Linked DNA regions of Homo sapiens: region 2 is linked to region 1. The links come from fine-mapping of genetic effects on gene expression. Tissue or cell type: skeletal muscle. Region 1 holds a variant in brackets; the other region holds the start of a gene. All regions are shown on one strand. Distances are from middle to middle.

Region 1 (2,681 bases):
TGCCCCTCTTCAGCACCCTAGTACACTTGTTGTGAGCCCCCTGTGTAAGTGTGGGGCCCTAGACAAGCAGAGAGATGACAAGGAAGGGTGGGGGAGAGATGTGGGAAGGTGGAGCTAGTTGGGAGACTGCCCAGTCAACAAAACATGTGCTGAAGCACCCTAAGGTGCTCCAGTACAGGCAGGGGATAGCTGGACCTCCCTCCCTTGTTCTCAGCATGTTTGCCTTTCTCTTTTCCTACTGCAGAGGAGTATCCAGCCTGCTGAAAACTCCAGAGGCTCACCTTGACCCTAAATTCAAAACTCAAGCCAGGACCGAGCGCGGTGGTTCACGCCTGCAATCCCAATGCTTCGGGAGACTGAGGCGGGCGGATCACAGAAGTTGGAGACCAGCCTGGCCAACATGGAAAAACCCCGTCTCTACTAAAATTACAAAAATTAGGCATGGTGGCACATGCCTGTAATCACAGCTACTCCGGAGGCTGAGGTGGGAGAATTACTTGAACCCGGGAGGCGGAGCTTGCAGTGAGCTGAGAAGGCACCACTGCACTCCAGCCTGGGCAACCTAGTGAGATTCTGTCTAAATAAAATAAAATAAAATAAAATAAAATAAAATAAAATAAAATAAAATAAAAAAAACTCAAGCCAGGGCTTCTGATTGGCCCAGTGTGAATCACGTGTCCTTCACTGAGCCAATCAACATTGCCCAGGAGGGTAGGCTCTGTAAACGATGGCAGCTCCCATTCTAAAATCAGGGTTAACATGGGTTGAAAATGATTCCTTGTAGACAAAACCACAGATATCCACACCAACCTTGGGCATATAGAGATACATGGAGCCTCACTTTTCTGACCTGTAAAATGGAGCTAACTATTGTGCCAACCTCACTGGGCTGTCTCAAGGGTTAAAGTAGATAAACAAGTGTGCTTGGCACACTTTACAGATATTCGAGAAATGGAAGGCAAGTGTGATTTAGGACCTCTCTGGCGTCAGTCAACCCCTCTCTAAAATGGATGTCCTGCTCGATCTCCCCAACCCTGATGTCCCAGGATCCCATGGCCCAGGGCCTCCGTGCAGGTGGTGAGTGACCACAGACCTTCCTCTCAGAGATCTAGTGTCCTCCGTCTATTCCTGGGAACTGAAATCTCCTCCTGCTGCTCTTCCCCTCGCCAAGGAATGTTTCTGGCCCCCTGTGACCGCCCTCAACACCCCACATCTCTGCCTAGAGTCCTGGGAAGAGCATGTACAGGGCTATT[C/T]TGAGCTGGGGAACCAGAGTTCAGACCGCAGTTCTGGCTGGGTGATCTTGCTCAGGCACCTTAAGCCCTCTGTGCCTTAGTTTCCTTGACTGTGACAATGGGGTGGTGAATAGTAGAAACTCTCTCGTAGGGCTGTTGTGTATATGGCCCAGCACAGAGCGAATGCCATGTAAAAATCTTAGCCATTCCCGTTGTTAACACTGCTGGCCCTCGCTCCATCTGCTGCGGAAATAGCACGGACAGGTCAGAGTGAGCTGAGCGCTGGGACAGAGCCATAAACAAGACTGACTGACGCCGGTCCTGTCCTCCTGGAGCTCCCATCCTGATGGAGGCAGACACATCAACGGGCAATTTCAATGCAGCGTGACCAGGGCCACTCTCAAGGGAAGCCTGGGCGGCCGGAGCAGGGGCCCAGCCCCACGGATAGAGGGTGAGGGCAGGCAGCCAGGAGAGGTGATGGCTGGAAGACAGTGCAAGTGGACCGGGTGAGGGAGTTCAGGGTGCATCCAGGCAGAGGGGCCAGACAGTATTCAACCTTGAGAGCTGACCGGGGGAGACACAGGCTGATCTTGGCCAGTTCAGGTGGAGGGAAGGTGGGTGAGGTGGGCATGGAGGGCGTCCAGGTGGAGGCAGTTGCTCTCCCAGGCTGAGTGTGGAGCCTCAGCCCCGCTCTCTCCCTGGACTGTGCCTGTGTGTGATTTTGTGTAACTGAGATTATGTGTGTATGTGTGTGGCTGTGTAGGGGGTGGTGTGTTTGTGGGTTTGTTCCTCGGCAGGGTTGTGGTGAGGGTGTGAAAAATAGTGTGTTTGGAAAGGGTATGCCTATTTGAGACAGTTTAGGGTGTGACCACTGTGTGTGAAGTTGTGTGTGTGACGCTATACGCGTAACTGTGTGTCCATGAATGTCCCTGAGACTGTGTGATGTGTGGCTGTATGTAGCTGTGTATTATGTGTCTTTCTGTAGGTATGAGTGTATAAGTGTGTGTATGTATGTTAGACACACATGCACTGCTGTCTGTGGAGACCAGGGCAATGAGAGCTGCTCCCCCACTTCCATCCAGCCCTGCCGCAGAGGAGACACACACACACACACACACACACACACACTCCTGGGGCTGGGAGGGGTGGCTGCCTGTCGCTGCCACAGCCAGTCAGAACTTGCTAATTTGCATGTTAATGAAGCCCGGGGAGCTCTCCAGCTCCAGACTGACAGGAGCCCCTGGCACCCCATCCTCCCCTGACAAGACTGGGAGTGAGGAGCGGGGAGGGCTGAGAGACGGCAGAGGGAAGAAGAGACAGAGGAGGCTCTGGGATGAAGCTCCCCTTTCTCTTTCTCTCACTCCATCACCCCTCTGCAGGCCCCAGGCCCCTCCACTTAGCTGCCAGCCCCCACACTCTCCCTCCACTCTCCCCACAAGACTCTGAGCT
Region 2 (2,681 bases), 35 kb after region 1:
GCAGCCACCCCATGGAGAACTCAGATCTCAGGTCACCTGCCGAGTTCCCCACTCCAGGCTGGTTGGTGCCCTAGGGTGAACTCTGGCACCACAAGAAGAACTGTGGGCCCATGGTCACACTCCTCACCCTGGGGACAGCTCCAGGAAGCGCAATGATAGAGATTTGGGAGGGAAAGCCGGCATTGGCCCCAAGTCATTATTCCAGCGCTCTAAGAAGGGTGCCCTGGTGGAAAGGGTAAAACAAGAGTCACACAAAGCAGACTTGGGGGAGGAGGGGGAGGCTCCCCAATGTCCGCGGCCTGGGAATGGGTTCCTCTGCTATGCCCCCAAGGACAGGGTGGGGACGTGCCTCGGGGACGCCTCAAAGCGGCAGTCCCTTGTCACCCTACCAGACCTCCCACCCCGCATCCCTCCCCGCAAGGGAGCACGCACACAGCTGCTCCCAGTACGCCCCCGCCCGTCCGCTGGCCGGCCCCACGCCCTGGGCGCACACTCTGTGACCCCGGGGGGTGCCAAAAAGCCCTCCTTCTGACGGCCCTCCTGGAGCCCAACACACCTAGCAGCCCCTGGAAGCCCCAGTCGGCGTCCCCAGCCCCCTCCCCAGCCGGACGCCCCCACCTTCCAGCCGGCCGAGCTGTTGCTGTCGCCTTTATCCTTGAAGTAGGGCACGTAACGGACCATCCAGTCGTAGATCTGCGAGAGCGTGAGCCGCTTGTCCGGGGCGCTCTCGATGGCTTTGGTGATGAGGTCGGCGTAGGACAGGTTCCCCCACGCGTTCCGCCGAGAGCTCTTCGCTTTCCGCAGCGGTCCGACCTCCGCGCCCAGGGGCGGCGCTGGGGCCATCGCCGGGGCCGTAGCCCGGCGCTCCGGCCCGCAGTCCTCGGCGCCCTCGGCCACCCCTGCGCCCAGCGCTCCGTCCTCGTCGCCGGCCAAGTCAGGCTGCGGCAGGGGCCAGGTACACGAGCGCGGCCGGCTCTGCGGCGCGAAGTCCGGGTCCACGTCCACCTGATGCGCTCGCAGCTTCGCAGCCATGGTCCCGCCCGGCTCGGGCGAGGAGGGGAGGGAGGCTTCGCGGAGGGTGGGCGGGCGGCTCCGGGATCTGCACGCCCCGGGGAGGCCCGCGGGAGGGGTCCCTGGCGGCGCTGTCTCAGCCGCGGGGCGCCATGGGCCGAGGCGCGGAGGCAGGGGGCTGGACGCGCTGGGGAGCACGAAGGGAGGGAAAGACCTGGGCAGTGAGGGGGCGGCGGCCCGGGAGCCCAGCGGGCACACACCTCGCCCAGCCCCGCTTCTAGCACCTGCCGCCTGCCTGCGCCTGCAGCCACCACCGCCACCGCCGCTGCCGCCGCTCCCCGGGCGCCGGCCCTGCGCACGGGCCCTGCTCTCCCGGGACGAGGCCGGATTGCACCATGCCGGAGCCCGAGCCGGTGCCGGAGCCCGCGCCGCCGCCGCCCGGTGAATGCTGCCGCCGCCGCCGCTCCGGCTCCAGCGCCAGCTCCCGCGCCTGCCGCGCTCAGCGCCGGCTGCACCTCGGGATGGGCGGGGGACGGGGAGGGGGCGGGCCCGACGCGGGAGGGGGCGGGGCGTTTCGCCTGCGGCCGCGGAATCCTCAGCCAGCCCAGGTGCCCCGCCCGCGGGCTGGGAGACCGGGCGCTGAGCTCCCAGCTCGGGGCGACCCCGCCGCAGCCCCTGCAAGCAACAGCGCCGCCTACGGAGCAGGGGCGGAGCGGCTGGCGCGACCCCGCCCCCTGCTCGGCGCGGAGGCGGGGGGGCTAGGGGGCGGAGCCCTAACACTCCCATTGGTCCGCGGCTGGACTGTCCTGCCCATGGGCTCGACAGGATCCCTCCCAGAAGCGCGTCACCGGTTATTGTTACAACCCGGGGTTTCCCGGGGCAACGGGATGGGGCGGGGCTCAGGGCACTGGCCCCGCCTTCTACTCCGGAGAGGACTGCCCCGCCCTCTGTTTGTAGACTCCTGACGTTCCCAAGTCTCCGTTCCAGGACTCTGACAGGGAGGATGATCGAACTCTGCTCTTCTTTGTGCCCTGGACTGAGCTGGGGAAAAAGAATGGGTCAAGAATACCTGGGTTCTAGGCTAGGCTTTGCCACAATTCTCGCTCCTCCATCCGCAAACATGTTCTTCATGGTGCCTGTGGTCATAGTTTTAGAGCTCCAGTTCTCAAAGTTTGACGCAGAGCAGAATCATCCCCTAGAGCTTGTTAACATTGCTGGACCCCAACTCCAGAGTTTCTGATTCGGCAGGTCTGGGTTGGGGCCCCAGACTTTGCATTTCTAACCAGCTCCCAGGTGATGCACGAGAGACCACACCTTGCAAACCATTGTTTTAGAGTCTGTGGGAGGTTCTTACTGCGGTTGTTGGAACAAGCACTTGTCTAAAGTTCACAGTGTTTGGGGAGATGCTTCTCAATCAGTTCCTGGATATTTATTGAGCACCTCTGACGCACCAGGCACTGTCCAGGGCTCTACAGTGAGAGCAGCAACTGAAACAAATGAGGTCCCCTACTGCATAGACTAGTCAGGAGTCAGATGCTAATCAGATCATCACATGAGCTCAGAAGGGCGAGGCTAGCCGAGAGGTTGGGCAGTCCGTGGCCTCATCCTACAGGCTGCTGAGCTAGGTTTCCCAGTCACCACTGCACCTGCTGGCCTTCGCTCAGGGTATT

Alleles and levels. Positions count from the first base shown, and alleles are read on the strand shown. Sizes are in standard deviations (SD) of each study's normalised expression.
For the expression in skeletal muscle of the gene that starts at base 1,529 in region 2, C is the low allele of the variant in region 1 and T is the other (moderate effect, 0.54 SD a copy in GTEx).

Evidence for each region. PIP is the estimated chance that this variant, and not a neighbour inherited with it, causes the effect.
Region 2: FOXO6 starts here. The variant in region 1 is fine-mapped to the expression of FOXO6 in skeletal muscle (GTEx, PIP 0.95).

Annotation. Positions count from the first base shown.
Region 1 is chr1:41,395,194-41,397,874 of GRCh38, reverse strand. No RefSeq gene overlaps it. Among named protein-coding and RNA genes, the nearest start is that of FOXO6-AS1, 21 kb to the right of the region's middle. RefSeq lists an enhancer at 2,373-2,681. The variant C/T (reference allele first, on the strand shown) is at 1,254.
Region 2 is chr1:41,360,282-41,362,962 of GRCh38, reverse strand. FOXO6 (forkhead box O6) reads right to left here and starts at 1,529. Exons shown (of 3, transcript NM_001291281.3): 1 at 619-1,529. The coding sequence starts at 1,032. RefSeq lists silencers at 814-1,033, 1,234-1,893 and enhancers at 1,692-1,986, 2,054-2,123.